5 separate regions of the Homo sapiens genome follow, and regions 1, 3, 4 and 5 are each linked to region 2. Evidence: fine-mapped expression QTL. A gene starts in region 2. Each other region holds a variant in brackets. All regions are shown on one strand. Distances are between the middles of the regions.

Region 1 (4,142 bases), 32 kb after region 2:
GGTAACACGGCTTGCCCGAGTCAGTAGCCAGGCCAGAACAGAAGGCCTCCTGACTCTGGTGTCCTTCCTGTCCTGGCCCAGCCACTCCAAAGGAGAAGAAGCTAGTGAAGGAAATGTTCTCTGCAATGGGACAGTGAGGAACAATTTGGGAGTAAGCAGGGCTTTCTGGCTCCCCTAAAGCTGCAGTGCCAGAACCTGTCTGTTCACAATGTCAACCAATCACCTGTTAAACGTTTAAACACTTAAACCCTCGGGGACTCAGTTTTCTCATCTGTAAAGTGGGTGGGGTGGGGGTGAGCTGCTGTCAGCCATCAAGACACCCCCAGCTCACCTCTGTGATTCTAGCAGTGTCCTCTCACCTGTTTTGTTTGTTTTTAAAACAATTCCATTAAAAAGTGAGCAAAGGATCTAAATAGACAAATAGACATCTCTCAGAAGAAGACACACAATGGCCAACAGGTATATGAAAAAAATGCTCAACATCACTATCATCAGGGAAATGCAAATCAAAACTGCAATGTGATATCATCTCACCCCAGCCAGAATGGCTGTTATTAAAAAGGCAAAAAATAACAGATGCTGGCAAGGATGTGGACAGAAAGGGATTCATCCACTGGTTGGTGGGAGCATAAATTAGTACAGCCATTATGGAAAACAGTAAGGAGATTTCTCAAAAAACTGAAAGTAGAACTACAAACCATCCAGCAATCCCACTACCAGGTATTTAAAGGAAAGAAAATCCATCTATTAAAGGGATGCTTGCACCCGCATAAACATCAACTGCAGCACTATTCACAACAGCAAAGATACGGACTCAACCGGAGTGTCACCAACAGATGAAAAGATAAAGAAAGGGCGGTATATTTACACAATGGAATATTATCCAGCCATAAAATGAGAATAAAATCCTGTCATTTGCAGCAACGTGGATGGAACTGGAGGTCACTGTGTTAAGTGAAATAAGCCAGGCACAGAAAGACAAATGTGGCACGTTCTCACTCGTACATGGGAGCCAAAAAAAGTGGATCTCATGAAGGTGGAGAGTAGAATGTTGGTTAACAGAGGCTGGGAAGGGAAAGGAGGGTGGGGGAATGAAGAGAGGTTGGCTAACGGTACAAACATACAGTTAGATAGGAGGAATAAGTTCTAACGTTGGATAGCAGAGTAGGGTGACTCTGGTTAACAACTACTGTATATTTCAAAATAGCTAGAAGAGAAGACTTGAAGTGTATCCAACACATACAAATGATGCATACTCAATGCTGGGCGCCAGTGGCTCATGCCTGTAATCCCAACACTTTGAGATGCTGAGGTGGGTGGATCACTTGAGGTCAGGAGTTCGAGACCAGCCTGGCCAGCATGGCAAAACCCCTTCTCTACAAAAAATACAAAGGGCATGATGGCAGGCACCTGTAATCCCAGCTACTCAGGAGGCAGAGGCAGGTGAGGCTCTTGAACCCAGGAGGCCGAGGCTGCAATGAGCCAAGATTGCACCATTGCATTCCAGCCTGGGCGACAGAGTGAGACTCCATCTCAAAAATAACAACAAAAAAAGGCCGAGTGCAGTGGCTCACGCCTGTAATCCCAGCACTTTGGGAGGCTGAGGCAGGTGGATCACGAGGTCAGGAGATCCAGACCATCCTGGCTAACACGGTGAAACCCCGTCTCTACTAAAAATACAAAAAATTAGCCGGGTGTGGTGGTGGGCGCCTGTAGTCCCAGCTACTCGGGAAGCTGAGGCAGGAGAATGGCGTGAACCCAGGAGGCAGAGCTTGCAGTGAGCTGAGATCGGGCCACTGCACTCCAACCTGGGCGACAGAGCGAGACTCCTTCTAAAAAATAAAAAATAAAAATAAAAATAAAAAATTCCCTTTCCTCCCCAACAAGGAGGGCAACATCAGAAGTGCTACCTGAGCCCCTGTACAGGCTGGGAGGGAAATATTTCTGTAGTTTGAGAACCTTCTGGATCAGGCAGGAGGCCTGTGGAAGCGAAAGAGGAAGCGTCCTTCT[G/T]TTTACCTCCCTCTGGTGGCGTCACACTTCCTTGCTTTGTGCATAACCTGCAGGCCGGCGGCCCACCCGTCCCCTGGGAGCACCTGGCTGGCTCAGAGGTCTCTGCAAAGCAGCGCAGAGCAGGCTTTGGCTGCTCCCCCAGAAGCAGGAGCCACTCCTCTGGAGCCCGTGGTGCTCTCACAAGCGTGTCTTTAGTCCGGCCACCCTTGGCAACGGCGGCACAGAGGTCAGCCATCAGTGGCCAGCACATCCCACGGGGTGTTCCTCGGTGCAGGAGAATCAGGGGTGGCTGCAGCCAGGTCTCGGAGTCCTCCGAGAGGGCAGGGAATTCCAGAAGGCACAGGTTCCAGCCCCAGTGCCTGGTTTGAGAACAGTGTCTTAAACAATAGAATTCTTTGTTTCAAAGAACGTTTTAGGCAAATCCAAGTGAAGCTGGGTGGGCGTGGGAGCTCAACCTTCCACGTCCCCTCCTCCTGCCCCTGGGACTTATAGAGGAACTCAGGGCCTTGGAAACATGGGGCTCCCAGGTCTGGAGCAGTGGGGCCTCCCTGCAGTCTCTCTTGAAACGGTTGATGGTAGCCACAAGGGTCATGAGAGTAGCAGTTCCCAGGATGTTCCGCTACGTACTCCACACCCGTCCTCTGGTTCACTCTGTCCAGGGTGCCCTGGGATGCAGGCTGACCATGTCACCCACCCCTCTGGCCTCTGCCCCTACCTGTGGGGTTTACAGAACTCAGTGGAGTGGCATAGACGCCGCAGGTGCTCAGAAAGGACACATGAGAGAAAGCTCTTAGGACAACGCAGGGGCTTAATAATGACATGCTCAAACGAGGGTCCCATCTACCCTGGGAGTAAGGACATCTGAGTTCTGGTCTGGCTCTGTCCATAACTAGCCTGGAACCCCCACCCCAGGGCCTCAGTCTCCCCACCAGTGAAATAAGAGCCTGCCCATGGGGCTCTGCGGGCCCTCCCGGCGCTGACACTGCAGCTCTGCCACCGTCAGACGCAGCTGGCTGGGCCGAGTAGCAGCCTGGGCCCGGGAAGGGCTGCTTCTGCCCTCCGTGTGGCTGTGGGCAAGGCACTTCCCTCCCAGCCCCAGGTTCCTCCTCGGTCTGGGGAGGGTGTGATCACGTGGTCAGACACCATCAGGCCTGGGACCATCCCGCACCCCGGCTCTGGCCACAGCCAGGGTCACAGGAACTCTCGAGAGAAGGAGCTCCAGCTGGGACAGCAGGCAGGTCTGCAGGAAGGCCCGAGGTCAGGCTGTGAGACCCAGGGTAAGGCTGGGCAGGAAGCAGACTCCTGTGAGGACCTCAGGCAGTGGCCATGCTGGCCTCTCACAGAACTAACACCTAAGGGCAGGAGGGAGCGTCTGCAAAGCTCAGACCCTCCAGGGAGTTTCAGGCTTTTCTCCATTTCTAATCTGTGCGTGGTTCTCGGATCCAGCAGTTCTCAGCTGGGGGAAATTTTGGGCCAGGTGCGGTGGCTCACACCTGTAATCCCAGTGCTTTGGGAGGCCGAGGCAGGCTGATCGCTTGAGGTCAGGAGTTCAAGAGCAGCCTGGCCAACATGGTGAAACCCCGTCTCTACTAAAAATACAAAAATTAGCTGGGCATGGTGGCAGGGGCCTGTAATCCCAGCTACTCGGGAGGCTGAAGCAGGAGACTTGCTTGAACCCTAGGGGCAGAGGTTGCAGTGAGCCGAGATCACACGACCGCACTCCAGCCCGGGCAAGAATGAGACTCCATCTCAAAAAAAAAAAAAAAAAAAAAAAATCAACTGGGGTAAATTTTGTTCCCAGGGAACATTTGGCAATTTCTCGAAATGCTTTTGATTGTCACAACTGTTCGGGGTCTGGGGGTGCCAAGTGGCATCAAATGCGTGGAGGCCTGGGATGTTGCTCAGCACCCTGCAGTGCACGGAACGGCCCCTCACCAGAGAATGATCCCCAGATGTCAATGTCAAGGTTGTGAAACCCTGGTCTACCCCAAATCCCGTCCACTCTCCGAAGCCCTGCTCCGATTCCACCTCCTCCAGGAAGACATCCCTGGTCCCCAGTGAGTCGTTAGTGACTCCATTGGCCTTGTATCAGGTTTTCTGATATTCTCATTATTTGTGGTAGCAGCACAGCT
Region 2 (4,011 bases):
AGTTGATTCGCCCTGCCCTCAAAAGACATGTGTCACACCAAGCAACTAACACCCATGTTGTAACTGCCCCAGAGGAAAGACGTTCAACGGCTGAGGAGACCACAGCGGCAACTAGGTCACTTCCTATTCGAAGAAAAAGGAGGAGATGCCATCTGGCAAATTCGAGGTAGGGAGACAAATCAATCGATGACGTTGCGAGGAGACAGAGGTCAAACGGGATCTACTGACATGACAGGGCGTTGAAGGGAAGGAAAAGTTGAGGGAAACGAGGAAACTATTTCCATAGGAGAATGCTTTTTCACTGAAGTCGAAACTGGCTTGGTACTGACGCCCAGCAGGGGAAACTCCCCGGACACTCACAGACATTCATCTGGTTACTTGCAGGAACATCTGCCTTTCCTGGTGACACCCTCTGCCCTGCAGTCTTCATTTTCCCTGGATAGCCCAGCGTCATTTAAATACTCAGAAGCCTCTCTGCCTTTCTATGCTGTTGTCTGCAAAGAGATGAACGGACCTGTGCAGACGGCTGGCCAGTGACGCCGGGATCTCTAGGTAACATGACCCAGTCACGGTGTCACAGACAGGCGGACCAGGAGGAAACCAGAGACACAGATGGATTCCAGGGAAAGCCAGCGTTACAGAATTAAGAAAAGCTGGGGAAGAAAAAGGAAAACGAGAATTTCCAAAACTGCCGCTTTCCCAGCAGAAGGGAGATGAAGTTGTCACTTTGGCTGCGAGGGTGCAGAGATGGAGGAAGGGTTGGGGGTGGGGGTGGTACCGCAAGGGAGAAAAATAGCTATAGGCTTCATCGCAAAGGGGTTCATGCAGAATACGCGAGGCCGGCGGCTAACTCTAAGATTGCTCTCTCGTTATTCTGTGCCTGGTGCAAAACCCACTACTCAGGGGACAACACATCCCAGCATAAAGAATGAAATCATTTCAGCAGCGAGGGCTGGGCCCGCTAGACCGTGAGGCTCCGGCGGCTTCCGCCCGTTGTCTGGTGCACCCCACCTTCAGAAGCACCTGCCCAAGATGGGAGCGACTGAAGAGAGAGGCCCCAGAGACTCTCCGAGGGGCGGCACCCCCAGATTCCCGGCCGGCGGACCAAGTTCGCAGCTCTCAAAAGACATGTCTCACACCAAGGGCCCCGGGCGGGGAGAGGAGAGAAGAGGGGAGGGGAGCAGGGCGCTGCTCCAGGGCACCTGCCTGAGCTCGGGCGCGATCCCCGGCCACAGGCGCGCGGGGTCACCGCCGGGGGACCGGGACTCAGCCCTCGGAAAGTCCGCGCCAACCCACAGGGCACCCGGGCGCCCGCTCTCCGACTGCTGTCCCGGCTGCCGACTCGTGGCCCACGTCCGCCTCAGTTTCCCCGCCCCTCACCTGCTCGAGACTTCGGAGACTGTCCCGGGGGGCGCCCAGCAGCGCGCAGAGCTCCAGCAGCCCCGAGGGCAGCGACAAGTGCGGCGACGCGGCCTCCGCCATGGCTGCCCGCCGCCCGCCGCCAGTACCGCACTCGGGCGCCTCAGCCGCGCAGTCGCCCGCAGACCCCTGGGGACCAGCCGCGCCGCCTGGGGGCCGGGGGCGCTGCGAGCGCCGTCTGCGGGGCGGGGCTGGAGGCGGGGCCTGGAGGGGCGGGGCCCGAGCCGAGGCGGGGCCTGGAGAGCCCCAGAGGATACCGCGGGGAGACAGAGTTTGGGGGCGGGGCTTGACTGGGCGGGGAGGTTCTGGGCGGGGCCTGGAGTGGCGTGCCCGGCCCTAGGGACCGGGACTTGGGGGCGGGGCCGGTCCTAGGGCGGGTGCTGCTGGAGACCCGCGCGCGGTCGTCATTTCCTAACCCGCCTGCGGGCCCTGGCGCGTGCGCGGCGTCGGAGCAAGCGGCCCCTTCCTTCGGCCCCGCCCAGCCCCGCCGGCCGCCCGCTCCCTGGGGAACCGAGGGAGGAATGGGCGGGGTCCTCAGGTGCCCGGCGACGTCATCCAGCCCCCAAGGCTCCAGGACGCAAAGGGTCCCCTGATCTGGCAGTCCCTGGACCTACCCTGGAGAGCGTGGGGGGACAAAGGCCGGACGCGCCGCCCGCTGCCGCCTCCAGGAAGCCCTCCCTTGCCAGGACAGTGGAGTTGGCCGGGTGTGGACAGCAGGAAGGGCCGGCGGGAAGGGGGGGTGGAAAGAGCCACTCCTGGTTAATAACTCTGCGGGGTTAACCTAGGGCCGGCCATACTCAAGTACGGACTTGAGTAAAATTCAGCAGGAAAAGGAGCAGGGTGGGCGCCGCTAGAGGGAGGCTTCAGGACTGAGGGTCAGAGGCCCAAGGCCTGGCAGGGCCCTTCCCTGGTCAGCTCCAGGCTTGGCCTGATGCCCGGTGGGCCACGGGCCTCTTCCAGCCTCAGGCTGACCCCAGAGAAAGAGGACAGCCCACAAGCCCGGGAGGCCGGCTTGCTGCCTGGTCATTGCTGCAGAGCCTGGAGGGGGCCTGCGCTCAGTCCCCGCTGACCGTCCCCTCCCTTGACCCTGCCATAGCCATCTGTGTAACCCAGGGGAAATTATTCCAAAGGGACTTCCACTTCTGATAATCTATGATTCTATTTTCTAAAAAACAAAACTCTAAAATGCTTAATGTCAAACATCTGTCATCAGCTGAACAGGAAAAGGAACAGTAAGTACAAAGCAAGGCAACATCAGAAAAGGGAGCCCTGAGGAATTTCTCCCTCCTTCCCTGAGCCGGGTGAGGCCGTGACTGCAGCCTGACTCACAGGTTTTATTTCACTTATTAACCTAAAGATGGTGAGGATCTGCTGGTTCTCCCCCAGGCCTGGAGGCTGCCTACCATCGGTGGCTCTCATCGGTGAGCTGAGGCCACAGTTGTTATAGTCTCTGACTTCAAAAGAAAGACCGATTTCATGAACAATTGCCTGTCTCTCTCGACGGTGGCCTCGGTTTTTTGTTGTTGTTTTTCTGTTTGTTTTTGAGACAGAGTTTTGCTCTTGTAGCCCAGGCTGGAGTGCAGTGGCATGATCTCAGCTCACTGCAACCTCTGCCTCCCAGGTTCAAGCGATTCTCCTGCCTCAGCCTCCAGAGTAGCTGGGATTACAGGCGCCCACCACCACACCTGGCTACTTTTTGTATTTTTAGTAGAGATGGGGTTTCACCATGTTGGCCAAGCTGGTCTCAAACTCCTGACCTTAGGTGATCCACCCGCCTTGGCCTCCCAAAGTGCTGGGATTACAGGCATGAGCCACCACACCCAGCCTTGGTGGCCTCATTTTTAGCAGCCTCTGCAAAGCACACAGCCTGAATCCGTCACCTAGAGTCCCCAGCATGCAGGAGAGGCGCTCTCAACCCGGGCTGGAGCCATGAGCCACTCCCTGAGGGCACACAGGGCCTGAGTCTGGCTCCTGTGTGTTGCTGTGTGACAGGTGAGCTCAACAGCCCTAAGCCGTGACTTCCTGAGGGGCAGTGGTCAAGATCCAAGGGAGGTAAACACATGGCAGCTCTTGCCACCAGGACCCAGTAAGGCTCACGCGAGAGCAGGTCTCTGCTGTCCCTTTATCACCAAGAGGCCAAATGCTTTAAGGAAGAGAGCTCCAGCAGTGCACAGAGCTTGCAATCCACTCCTTTATGCCCCCTTTTCCTCCTCCTTAAAACCAGATAATTGGGCCAGATGACCTCTGAGGGGCTCCCAGTTCTGCACTTTTTAATACGCTCCCGTCTCTCATGCCACAGGTCCTTCCAAAGTGCCTACGGAAAGCTTTGTCCCATCCTTGAAAAATTGCTAATGGGTTTGGAGATACGAGGTGGAGATGACTAGCAATCAAACTCAAAGGTGGAAGTCACATCGAGGCAGATGAGCAGATGAGGGGACCTAGAGAAGAAGAGAGGTGCAAGGAGAGCCCAGCCAGCAGGAACATCTGCCCCAGTAGGCAGCACTGCCCCACATCAGAGTCGAGGAAAGCAAAGCTCGGATTGGATAAAAGAAACTTGCAAACACGGTCAGTGCTTACTGCATGTGGGCTCAG
Region 3 (4,142 bases), 32 kb before region 2:
ATTAGTTAGGCGTGGTGGTGGCAGGCGCCTGCAGTCCCAGCTACTTCAGAGGCCGAGGCAGGAGAATTGCTTAAACTTGGGAGGCGGCAGTTGCAGTGAGCCCAGATGGCGTCACTGCATTCCAGGCTGGGTGACAGAGTGAGACTCCATCTCAAAAAAAAAAAAAAAAAAAAGGCCACTCAAATTTCCATTTTGAAATAATCACGCAGAGTACGATCAAGCCAGCAGGCTCTGTGCTAACCACCTCCCAAAGCGGAAGGCCCCTCAAGAACAGAGGAGGCCAGCATCGGGGGTGCCTCCTTCACTGCTGGACTCAGGGAGCAACCAGCAAGAAGGAGAGGAAGAACACTGCCAGAGAAAAGGAGAAAGGGTGGGAGAAGCCCAAAGGCTTTTGCATTAAAAAGTACTTATCTATGAAGCTATCATTTTTGCCATACATTCCTTAAGTGACTGCCTATTTAGGCCAGAAATAGCAACTCAATACCTGTACTGTATCACACTGAAATAAACACACTTGACTTGTCCACTTAACCAATTCCAGCTCAGGTGCTGGGGAAGCAATAGCATGCAGGAGGTAGCTAATGCTGTAATTAGTGGAATGAGGAGAAAGAAAACTTGCTAACAGGCACATCTTGAGTGCCCCACCCGTCCTGTGGCTCTCCCATAGATGGTTTCATGATCTAGCTTATGAGTCACATCAAAATGGCCTGTCTGTCCCTCACTAGCCCCTGGATGCAGGCCTCTCGGGACAGAGCCCTCCACGGACTGAGCCAGAGCCCGGAGCCAGCACAGGCCAGAGTGACAGGTGCTCCCTGCAGGTTTATCAGATTTGCGTCTTCCTAGAGGGCTGTCCCAAAACAGCCACCTGCAGGGGGTCACCAGGAGAGGGCGTTAGTAAGGTAGTAAGGCACAGTCACCAGCAGGAGAAGCTGTTAGGAAGGCAGTCACCAGCAGGAGAGGGTGTTAGGAAGGCACAGGCAAGGTCAGAATCAAAAGAACAAACTCCCTGTAACTGCTGATTGTTACAGTCACAAGAAAAGCTTTGGCAGGGGGCGGGGACCACTCATGTTTGCCAGGCAAATGGTACTAATGGCCTGCCCTCTGGGGCGGGGTGCACGATCCCCATAGAATGGATGGCTGGCTGGTTACCTCCTCATGGACACTGGGAATGTTCTCTCACGTACCTGAAGATGCTCACGAGCAGCTGCAGGGTGGTCTGCTGTATCTGGCAGTTGAGTTTCTGCTGCCAGGACCGCCGGTGGGCTCGGCCCTCCTTCAGGTCTGTGCTGGAGAGGAGGTGGGCGGCGTGCAGCTCATGGTGGAGCTGGAGGCTCTGCACCCTGGAAGGAGGCAGACCGAAGCTAGCTCAGCCCCAGCAGCACTGGCCACGGCCGCTCACCAGCACACAGCCCACCAGGTAAATGAACACTTCACAGACACAAATACCGATCAATAATTTGAGGGGCGGGTGGTCATTAAAGTACATCACTGGGGCTGGACGCGGTGGCTCACGCCTGTAATCCCAGCACTTTGGGAGGCCGAGGTGGGTGGATCACCTGAGGTCAGGGAGTTCAAGACCAGCCTGGCCAACATGGTGAAACCC[A/C]TTCTCTACTAAAAATACAAAAATTAGCCAGGCATGGTGGCAGGCACCTGTAATCCCAGCTACTCGGGAGGCTGAGCCAGGAGAATCGCTTGAACCTGGGAGGTGGAGGTTGTAGTGAGCCGAGATAGTGCCGCTGCACTCTAGCCTAGGCAACAGGAGCGAAACTCTGTCTTAAAAAAAAAAAAAAAAAAATACATCGCTGGAAGACTGGAAGAGTGGATTCACCTCCACACATGGACTCACATGGGCCTCGACTTGGACTATGCACACTTCACCCAGGCCAGCTCATTCCTGTCCTGCCACTGCAGTGAGGGCACTCCCCCTTCTAGGTCACCAAAGGCTTCCAGGTCAGGCTGCCTCTTGACGGGTCACTCATGGCTGCCTAGAAGGGACAGTCACAGCTCCCCCATGGCTTCCCCTCTGTACTTCCTGCCCAGGCAGGATCAGATGCCCCTCTGTGCCCTGCAACAAACGTCCCGGGTGTCACCACTCTTGGCCCACCAGGAGATGGCCAAAGGCTCACCCCAGAGGGCCTCACTCAGGGACAGGAACTCACAGATATCTGTCAACCCTGAGCCACCATGAGATTGGACCCCTGGCCTTCCCAACACCACTAAAGGCTGCATGTCTAGAGGGACGTTAGAAATATACAAAATAAACAGAACCAACGCATATCTGGTCACACATATTTCTTGAGCACCTACTGTATGCCATACACTGATCTGTGTGCTAGGGATGGGTGGTGGACACAGGCCAAGCCCCTGCCTGCGTGGCACTTCCATGTGAGTGGGAGGAAGTAGGAAAAGAGACAAATCAAGAAAACAGGAGATAATGAGGACATCAGGCAGAAACGCACATCACAGCGATGGGCTAGAGAGACACGGCAGTCAGACTGAGCGGGCAGAGAAGAGTTCTCCCAGGAGACGACCTGGAACCGGAGATGTGACAGGAAGACACAGACGGGGGACTTGATGGACCCAGTGCGGCCCAGCATGGTAGGGGGAGTGGGAGTGTGGGCCAGGTCAGCATGGCCGGCAGGAGCCAATCTTCTCTGTGATGGGAAGGGTGCACTGGCCACAGGCCCCTGCCGCTGCCTGACCCTCCTGGAGGCAGGGACAGGAAAAGGGAAGAACGGGATTCTGGGTGGAGTGGCCCACCAGGGGATGGTAGCAGGCAGGCACGCGGTGCCAGGGCCAGGACCAGGGTTCTCTCCAAACGTGCTGAGCAGCAGCTGCTGAGGGGCCAGCCCAGCCCTGGCTGACCAGACTCACAGGACTTGGGCAACTACCCTTGCCTAGATGGGTCTCAAGAACTGTGATGTTTACCAGCACCAAACTGGCCTTTCATCTGAAAGAACACGCAGAATGCCAGGGAAAGAAATTTTGATGACTTTCCTCATGTAAAAAGGGCTATGATGCCACCTGGAGTGGCAGCTTCTCTTACTGCATCTTCTGGTGCAGGGACAGTGGGGTCTGAAGGAGATGGCCATCCCCTCTCCCGGAACCCCATGCCTCCCTCACCCAAGCACGCAGCCAGCATAGCCCTGAGCTGGCGACCCTACCCCTGCTGCCCAGGGAGAGAGCGACTTCCATCAGAGATGAAGACAGCAGTGAAGAGAGTGACCAAGAGCCAAGGGTGCTGGGGAAAGCTGGGCAAGGAGGGGGCTGCCCCGTCCCTCCCAGCCACACGCTCACGTGCAGAGAGATGCATATTGTACTCCAGAGCCCCTTGAGCAGGCACCCCAACGACACCGCAGCCCACAACCTGTATCATGAGCTCAGAGGCCTCTTATAGACAGGTCACCCATGGCACAGGGATTAGCTTGTGTTTACAAAAGAGTCTCCAAAAATGAGGCTGTGGGAGACACGACATCCTGCATCCCCATTCTGGGGGATCTAGCCAAAGCGGGGCCCAGCCTCCGTATCGTGTGTGTTTCTATTCCGGAATTCTAACAAGAAGATGAGGATGCAGGCAGAATCCTACCTTCCTGGGAATGCTCAGAGCTTCAACACAGTCTCACAAAGCTCAGTTCTATTACAGAATGTCACGCTCTAAAAGTCAAGGAAGCAGCTGTGGCTTACCAGAAAGTAACTGAGATGATTGGGAAAGCACGTGTCTCCTTCAAAGTTCGCGCAGAGGACAGTTGCCAACAGAACAGCTGCTCAGGTGCCCTTGGCTGGGGAGGAGAGCCCAGCGATTCCACAGCCCAAGCAAGCAGAAACCAGCCTTGCCTGTGCAGGACCATCGCTTGGCTTTAAGGCCTTAGGGAATTTTTTAAGATGCAAGAACAATAATAAAGGTAGTTCTCCGACTGGGCGCGGTGGCTCACGCCTGTAATCTGAGCACTCTGGGAGGCCCAGGCAGGTGGATCACCTGAGGTCAGGAGTTCGAGACCAGCCTGGCCAACATGGTGAAACCCTGTCTCTACTGAAAACACAAAAATTAGTCGGGCATGGTCACAGATGCCTGTAATCCCGGCTACTCCGGAGGCTGAGGCAGGAGAATCGCTTGAACCTGGAAGGCGGAGGTTGCAGTGAGC
Region 4 (4,142 bases), 76 kb before region 2:
GGCTGTGACTGGCAGTTGGCAGTGGAGGAAATGAAAGGGAGGGGACTTGCCCCGGGTTACCCAGCTGCTGGGGTTTGAATCCGGAAGCAAGTTTTCTTCAGTGGCTCTTCTGATTTGTGGGGCGTGGAAGGGGTCCCAGCAGGGCCGGGGTGTGGAGTAGAAGGGATCTGCTCAGACGAGGGAGAAAGGGACGAGGGACTTTGATAGTTGGGGGGTGTCACCACGGGGCTCCTGGATGGGACCTGCGCAGTTGGGGGCCCACGGAAGCCAGGAACCTCCGGACCTGGGGACAAGTCCCAGCTGGGCCACTCTGGCGCTGTTACCTGGGCGCCCTGCTGCAAAACGCAGGCTGATGGCCCTGTGGTGGGGACTAAAGGGATGGTCGCTGTCCTTCGGCCAGACGGGAGTGGGGCGGTGAGCCAGGGCCGCCCAGACTCTGCACCCAAGACCCCATTTGCCATCTGGGACCCTGCCTGGCGCCCTGGCTGACGCGAGCCCGCGGCATCCCCTGTCGTCCACCCGGTGCGTGCGGCCCCGCCATGTCCCGCCCCGCCGTCCCTGGCAGGGAGGGGCTGTGGAAGCCTCCGCCCACCACGGCACGCCCGGCACCCCCAGACTCGTGGCTGGGCTTTGGGAACACAGGTGGAGGCCCAGGGCGCGGAGGGCGGCGGGACCCAAAATCCAGGCGCTTCCCTCCCAGGTGGGGGAGGCAGCGAGCGAGAACAGCTTCCTGCAGGGGACGCCCGGCCACCGCGCCGCAATCCCGCCGCGGCCACAGAGACGCTCCCCGCCCCTGGACAGGCCTGAAGCAGTGGGAGCCCGAGACGCTGGGAGCCCCGCACCCCGGTGGCCGCCCGGGGCCCAGTGCCTGTGGGCGGGGAGGCGGAATCGACACCCCACCAGGACCCCCGCCCTCGGGTGGTGGGCGGCCGTGACGGCGGCGCAGGGGCCAGGGGCGTGTGTTCCCCCGCCCGCCTCACCTGGCGCGCGGGTGCCTGGCCCACCTGAGCGAGCACCAGACCTGCACCCCGCCAACCAACGCTCCCCCCGAGCGACCAGGCTAGGAGGGAACACCCGGTGCTGCGCCCCTTTCCTGGCCTTTCCCCAGGATGCTCACCAAGGATGAGCCCTGCGTGCCCAGCGGCCATCACGGGGCAAGAAGAAGTCGCCAAGACAGAGAATCAGTGACCCAGGCCTCCCAACCCGGTCTTTGTTCGTTTTTGAGACGGAGTCTCACTTTGTCACCCAGGCTGGAGTGCAATGGTGCGACCTCAGCTCACCGCAACCTCTGCCTTCCAGGTTCAAGCGATTCTCCCACCTCAGCCTCCCGAGTAGCTGGGATAATTGACGCCCGCACCCGGCTAATTTTTGTACTTTTAGTAGAGGTGGGGGGGTCTCACCATGTTGGCCAGGCTGGTCTCGAACTCCTGACTCAAGTGATCTGCCCGCCTCGGTCTCCCAAAGTGCTGGGATTACAAGCGTGAGCCACCGCGCCCGGCCCGTCTTCACATCTTTGTCTCCACACTACTAATGTTAATTTTTTTTAAACGAAATTTGAACCACTATGCAGAGTTTTGCAACCTACATTTTTTGTTGTTGTTTAGCAAAATATTTTCAACTTTCCTTGTTCCTGCATGTAGACCTACTGCATTCTGCAATAGCTGTTAGCATTCCAGGGTGTAACTTCTTTTTTCTTTTTTTTCTTTTGAGACAGGGTCTCCCTCTGTTGCCCAGGCTGGAGTGCCCAAGGTTGATCGTGGCTCACTGAAGCATCCTGGGCTCTGGCCATCTTCCCGCCTCAGCCAGTTGAGTAGCTGGGACTGAAGGTGCACGCCACCATGCCCTGCTTTGTTTCTTTTTTTTTTTTTTTTTTTGGTAGAAATAGGGTTTCCCTATGTTGCCCGGGCTGGTCTCAAACTCCTGGGCTCAAGCAGTCCTCCTGCCTCGCTCAGCCTCTCAAAGTTCTGGGATTACAGGTATGAGCCACTGTGCCTGGTCTTGTTTGCCCATTTTTAAATTGAGCTGTTCATCTTGTTACTGATTTGTAAAAACTCTATATATTTTGGATAAAAATTCTTGTCAGATATAGTATTGCAAATATTTTTTTT[TC/C]CTTAATGATATATTTTGATAAAGTCCAATTTATCCATTTTTTCTTTAGTGTTTAGCTTTTTTGTGTGTTCTCTCTAGAAAAATCTTTGCACCAAGGTGGCAAAGATGTGCTTGTTTCTAGAGCTTCTAGCTTTACATTTAGGTGGGTGAGCCACCTTGAGTTAAGTTATGTGTAGTGAGGTAAGTGTTGAGCTGCTTCCCTTTTCCATACGTTTATCCAGTCATTGCAGCACCATTTGCTGAACAGACTTTCATTACCGAATTGTCTTGGAATTTTTGTTTTTTATAGTCAACTGACTTTATGCTTGCGCATCTAGACCCTACGTTGTGTTCCATTGATTTAATTACCTATATTTATGTCAAATCCTACCGTTTTAATTATTGTAGTTTTTTAGCAAAGCATAAAGGTATATGAGTCCTCTGGCTTGAGCCATCCCACCTGGCTTGATCTTCTTTTTGAAGGTTATCTTAAATATTCTACTTTGCATTTCCATATATGTTATAATCAAATTCTCAATTTCTTTTTTAAAAATTATGTTAGCATTTTGATTGGGATTAAATTGAATCTATCAGATCAATTTGGAGATAACTAACATCTTTACAATATTTAATCTCCCAGTCCATGAAAATGGTATATCTTTTATTTCAGTCTTTAACATTTTCTCTCAGCGATGTTTTTGAGTTTTCAGTCTTTTACGTCATTCATTAAATTTATTTCTATTGAATGTTTTTTATGCTACTGTATTTTAACAGTTTACAAGTTGTTTGCTGTTAGAATATAGTAATGCAATGATTGTATATTGACCTTGTATCCAGTACCTTATAGAAAAAACTAGAAAAATATTCTAGTTTTTAAAATAGATTCTTTAGGATTTATATAAATGGCCTTGCTGTCTTCTAATAAAGATTGTTTTGCCTCTTCCAGTACAATCATCTTTTTCCCCTCAATGTTCTGCTGAACCAGTACAATGTTTATGCCCCCCCCTTTTCTCCCCCTATTGCCCTGGCTAGAATCTCTAGTACAATGTTAACAGGAAGGGGGCCCCCTCTCCCTCTCCCTCTCCCTCTCTCCCTCTCTCCCTCTCTCTCTCTCTCTCTCTCTCTCTCTCTCTCCACGGTCTCTCTCTCTCTCTCTCCCTCTCTCCCTCTCTCCCTCTCTCCCTCTCTCCCTCTCTCTCTCTCTCTCTCTCTCTCTCTCTCTCTCTCTCCCTCTCTCTCTCTCTCTCTCTCCATGGTCTCCCTCTCCCTCTCTCCACGGTCTCTCTCTCTCTCTCTCTCTCTCTCTCTCTCTCTCTCTCTCTCCCTCTCTCCCTCTCTCCCTCTCTCTCTCTCTCTCTCTCCACGGTCTCCCTCTCCCTCTCCCTCTCTCCACGGTCTCCCTCTCCCTCTCCCTCTCCCTCTCTCCACGGTCTCCCTCTCCCTCTCTTTCCACGGTCTCCCTCTGATGCCGAGCCGAGGCTGGACTGTACTGCTGCCATCTCGGCTCACTGTAACCTCCCTGCCTGATTCTCCTGCCTCAGCCTGCCGAGTGCCTGCGATTGCAGGCGCGTGCCGCCACGCCTGACTGGTTTTCGTATTTTTTTGGTGGAGACGGGGTTTCGCTGTGTTGGCTGGGCTGGTCTCCAGCTCCTGACCGCGAGTGATCCGCCAGCCTCGGCCTCCCGAGGTGCCGGGATTGCAGATGGAGTCTGGTTCACTCAGTGCTCAATGGTGCCCAGGCTGGAGTGCAGTGGCGTGATCTCGGCTCGCTGCAACCTCCACCTCCCAGCCGCCTGCCTTGGCCTCCCAAAGTGCCGAGATTGCAGCCTCTGCCCAGCCACCACCCCATCTGGGAAGTGAGGAGCGTCTCTGCCTGGCTGCCCATCGTCTGGGATGTGAGGAGCCCCTCTGCCTGGCTGCCCAGTCTGGAAAGTGAGGAGCGTCTCTGCCCGGCCGCCATCCCATCTAGGAAGTGGGGAGCGTCTCTGCCCGGCCGCCCATCGTCTGAGATGTGGGGAGCGCCTCTGCCCCGCCACCCCTTCTGGGATGTGAGG
Region 5 (4,142 bases), 63 kb before region 2:
GCACCAACCCTGCACGTGCCTGTTAGGAGGGGAACCCTGAGAGGCGAAGGCAGGAGGGCACGAGGGCGTGCGGCTGGCTCTCGGGAGCATGGGGATGCGGCCAGGGCAAGCGAGACCTGCCGGGGATGCTGGGGATGGCGGGCCCTCCACCCTACCTGCTTCTTCACCCGGATCATGCAGTTGATCTCAGAGCAGTCCTCGAGGGGCACCCTCTGCGGGGGCTGGGCCAGGTCCTTCAGGCTCCAGATGTAAACCTCGCTGCGTCCTGCACAGGCCGCCCACAGCTGCTCCTCCTGAAACGCAGGGCACGGTGTGGGCTATGGGCCCCGGGCCACGCACATGCTGGGCCCACAGCCCCTGCTGGGATACCTCAGGAAGGAGCTGGAAGGCCAGGAAGGAGGTACTGGTGTCTTTGAAGTTCTCCTCAATCTTCAATTCTTGATGGAGGGATCCATTCATTTTCATGACCATGATGCTGTTACCTGTGCCTGTGGAAGGAAGGAGCTAGGATGGGGCCAGGCAGTGTCATTGGCAACATAAGACGCCAGCACCAGAGCCGGCCTCACTGCTCTTTCCAGCGTGGTGATGGGGGGGATCACCACGTGCCACCTGGCGCCTGAGGAATGCACAGGTGAGGTCTACTGGGAAAAAATGCAAGCTAGAACCCTGGGTCTTTAAGAAGAAATGAGGCTCACCAGAAAACGTAAATATATGGGCAGTTTCTTAATTTTTCTTAACTTTCTTGAAAGATCATTGACTGCTTAAGCAAAAATCTTAAAGAATGTATTATTGGGAGTACCACACTTGATACTGTTGTAAGCTTCTTACCCTATCCATGAAGCAGTATCATAGTTAGTTAAGGAGGAGGGTGATCGGTTAAGGTTGCATATTGCAATTCTTAGAGCAACCACTGAAAAATAAAACAAAAATATAATGCTTAAAAACAGTAAAGAAGATTAAATTGAACATAAAAATATTCAATACAAAAGAGGGCAAGAAAGGAAGAACAGAACAAATAACAGATGAGGGGAAGAAGGACAACCGTTGGCTTGCACCCAACCACGTCGCTACCGGCCCTGAAAGTGAGCGGAACAGTGGGCAGGGGCCTGCACAGGCGCTGCTCCCAGGGAGGCGTCAGCGGGCACCGGGCACACGACAGAGTGCTCAGCACCATCAGCCATGAGGGAGCCACAGATCCAAACCACAAGACGCCACTTCACTCCCGCGGGGACGGTGTCAGTAAAAACAGGTGAGAACCAGTTTGGGTGAGGATGTGAAGAAATGAAGCCTGAGACTGCGGGTGGCGTGGAAGCTGCTGCCGCCACTTCAGAAAACAGTCTGACGGTTTTTCAAACAGTTAAGCAGAGTGAACCCAGTGCCCACTTGGGGCAGGGGAAGGATGAGCATGTTCCATATGCACACAATGGACTATTACCCTGCAAGAAGGAACGAGCTATTGATATTGATACTCAGAACGTCAGCGATGAATACTATAAACATCCTGCTGTCTGAATAAAGCCAGATACAGAAGAAGGCCTACTGTAGAGTCCATTTGTAGAAAGTTCTGTAAAAACCAAATTCAGATGACAGAACTAAGAGCACTTGTATCCCCTGAATGGCGGCACGGCCTGGAAAGGGGCACAGACGCTTTCAGCTGTGACGGAAACGCTGCGTGTCTTGATTTGTTTCATGGTTATGTAGTTTAGATGTTTGTCAAAACACAACAAACTGAGCACTTTTTGGTGAGCTTTACTATATGTGAAACACGCCTCCATTACAAAAAAGAAAACATATTCCCAGCCGTCACTCATGTAATCTGGCACATGCCGAGGAAGACCTCAAAGTGCCGGCAACTTCTGTGCTCTGGGGCGTCCAGAAATGCAGACACAGCCGCCAGGCAAAGCACCTGCTCCTCCCATCGCCCCCCTGGCAAAATCCCCAGTCTGGGTCCACGGAGAGTCCCAGGCTGCAGCTCTGTGCCAAGCAGCCGAGGGGAACAGAGCACGGGCTCGCCAGCTGCCCCCAGGTGTGGAGACGTGACGCACACAGAGGCCTCCCAGGAGGAGCAGCCATGACTCCGGGGGACACATGGGCCAGCTTCAACCCCAGAGCAGGGCACAGCAAAAGCCAAGGTGAGGGACAGGAGAGCAGTGGTGCGTCCAGGCAAGACAGGCATCCCGTCAGCC[G/A]CTGGGTAGAAAGGCAGAGGGAGGCCTGGGGAGCCCCCAGGAGCAGCAGTGCAGGTGGAGTAAAGGTTGCTGCGACCACAGAAAGGGAACCCGAGTTTAAAATAAAGACTGGAAAGGCGTGAAGCAAAGGAAAGAGGCTTTCTGCTCTCGTTCAGCATCCTTTTCCCAGAGCAGGGAGGTAGGGTGCCCGCTCTGATGGCAGGGGCCGGACTTACAGCACCACAGGCGGCCGCCGTGCAGTCTGATGGACGTCAGGCCACCTCGCGGCAGCTGGAAGCGGCTGGTCACCTGCAGTGTGCTCACATTCCACACCAGCACCATGCCGTCCATGCTGCACGAGTACACGTTGCTGGGGGCACAAAACACACACACACACCTTTAACTTGGGCCCCTGAAAACACTGTGCACATTTTAACCCAAGAGAGAACCAAGTCGCCATGAGAGAAAATGTGCTCAACACGGATAACCTGCAAACATGATAATAACATGCAAACATAATAACCTGCAAACGTAACCTGCAAACATGATAATAACATGCAAACATGCTATGAATGCAGCCACAGCCAGGCTTGGCTCAAATGTAACTGACTCGGCAGGAAAAGGCGGGTTTCTCGGGACGCCCACCTCTCCCACCACCGCGGGCCGCAGGCTCAATGAGGTGTTGTCATAGAGCCATGACATGACCATGAACTGAAATGGAACCTCGTCAGCGGTCCCCGTTCACACAAGGGACCAGGGAGCCAGCACGATCCTCAGAGCTCTCGGGTGACATGGGCTGGCTGCAGGTGCAGGCGGCTGTGGGCGGGGCTGGGCTCGAGCCTGCACCCTGCGCCACCCCTGAACCTCCTGAGCCAGCTTTGCTTCCAGACTAGCACCTCCCTACCCACCCCAACAGGGCCTGACACAGGCGCCCCCGACACTAAGTCAGGGGAAAAAGGAGTGGGGAGTGTGGCCCCTCACCCAGGGCTGGGGCTGCCTGGACCAAGTGGGCAGCCTTGTGCACTTTCCCCACCATGAGCCTCTGCTCAAGGAGACCCCACCTCCTCCTCCCGTCTCCCTGGATGCCCCGTGTCCAGTGCTGCTCCCACTGTGGGAAACAGCAGCGAACAGGCAGCCCAAGGCCAACACTGAGCACTCAGGCGATTATCAGGCGAGTCCAGGCTTCTGACACCATGGCTGGTGCACCTCTGGGAGGCTGTGCCCTCTCGGGGCTGCCCCATGCCACAGTGCCCACAGCAAGCTCAGCAGGAAGGCCGGGTGTGGTGCCTTCATCACCACGCTTGGCCCACACTGGTGTCATGGGTTCTCCGCACCCGTGAGCAGAAGCAGACCGAGGACACCACCCAGCTTTCCTCGTTCTAGATCCACTTCACTCTGTACGCCCCGCCTGGCCCCTGTGGGCACAAGACTTGGGAACCCTACCCGCTGTGCCTTCTGCCCACCCACAAGCCAAACAGTCCCTTCTCCCCAGCAGAGCTTACTGCACCTGGGTGCCTCCTGTCCGTCCTGCACAATCAAATCCGTGACACTGGAGCAGTGGGCTGTGAGCTGCTTGTTGCAGGACATGCTGTGGACGTTGATGATGTAGATGACGGAGTCTTCCGAGCCAACCCACACCTGGTTCTGGTCGGCCATCACCATGCAGTTCTAACAGGAGGCCACGGGAACGTGAGAAATCAGTCAGTCTCGATACTGGTGAAGTCATATTCTATACATTTACTGCACGTGCTGAATTAGCGGATATGGAACCACTGCTCCTAGGGGACACGCCGGCTCAGGGTCCTGGGAGCCTCTGGCCCTGACGTTGTCATCCACCCATCAGTGCATAACCTTGTTCTCCGCGTGCTCTGTTCACAGACACCTTATTGACTACGTATGATTGATTCATTAACACGAAACCCACGGCCGCCAGCACTGTCACTGCGGCCTGAACCAAGCTCATCTCACACATGCATT

Evidence for each region. PIP is the estimated chance that this variant, and not a neighbour inherited with it, causes the effect. A credible set is the group of variants that fine-mapping cannot tell apart.
Region 1: its variant is the best candidate, but not a certain one, in a credible set for the expression of DENND3 in whole blood (TOPMed, PIP 0.79).
Region 3: its variant is the best candidate, but not a certain one, in a credible set for the expression of DENND3 in whole blood (INTERVAL, PIP 0.75).
Region 4: its variant is the best candidate, but not a certain one, in a credible set for the expression of DENND3 in T cells (TOPMed, PIP 0.65).
Region 5: its variant is the best candidate, but not a certain one, in a credible set for the expression of DENND3 in whole blood (Lepik 2017, PIP 0.89).

What each region holds. Positions count from the first base shown.
Region 1 is chr8:141,094,604-141,098,745 of GRCh38, reverse strand. No RefSeq gene overlaps it. Among named protein-coding and RNA genes, the nearest start is that of DENND3, 32 kb to the left of the region's middle. RefSeq lists an enhancer at 2,720-3,719 and a silencer at 3,965-4,142. The variant G/T (reference allele first, on the strand shown) is at 2,011.
Region 2 is chr8:141,126,179-141,130,189 of GRCh38, reverse strand. DENND3 (DENN domain containing 3) reads right to left here and starts at 1,601. Exons shown (of 23, transcript NM_001352890.3): 1 at 1,381-1,601. The coding sequence starts at 1,482. DENND3-AS1 (DENND3 antisense RNA 1) reads left to right here and starts at 49. Exons shown (of 2, transcript NR_183310.1): 1 at 49-166; 2 at 3,719-4,011. RefSeq lists enhancers at 510-1,340, 2,174-3,005 and a silencer at 1,196-2,055.
Region 3 is chr8:141,157,830-141,161,971 of GRCh38, reverse strand. It overlaps DENND3 (DENN domain containing 3), which reads right to left. Exons shown (of 23, transcript NM_001352890.3): 9 at 1,185-1,340. Among named protein-coding and RNA genes, the nearest start is that of DENND3-AS1, 30 kb to the right of the region's middle. RefSeq lists an enhancer at 3,287-3,406. The variant A/C (reference allele first, on the strand shown) is at 1,604.
Region 4 is chr8:141,202,536-141,206,677 of GRCh38, reverse strand. LOC105375785 (a long non-coding RNA gene) reads left to right here and starts at 3,319. Exons shown (of 4, transcript XR_007061124.1): 1 at 3,319-4,142. RefSeq lists a silencer at 438-847. The variant TC/C (reference allele first, on the strand shown) is at 2,109.
Region 5 is chr8:141,188,677-141,192,818 of GRCh38, reverse strand. It overlaps DENND3 (DENN domain containing 3), which reads right to left. Exons shown (of 23, transcript NM_001352890.3): 19 at 3,673-3,833; 20 at 2,402-2,535; 21 at 370-488; 22 at 156-293. Among named protein-coding and RNA genes, the nearest start is that of DENND3-AS1, 61 kb to the right of the region's middle. RefSeq lists enhancers at 1-193, 194-694. The variant G/A (reference allele first, on the strand shown) is at 2,187.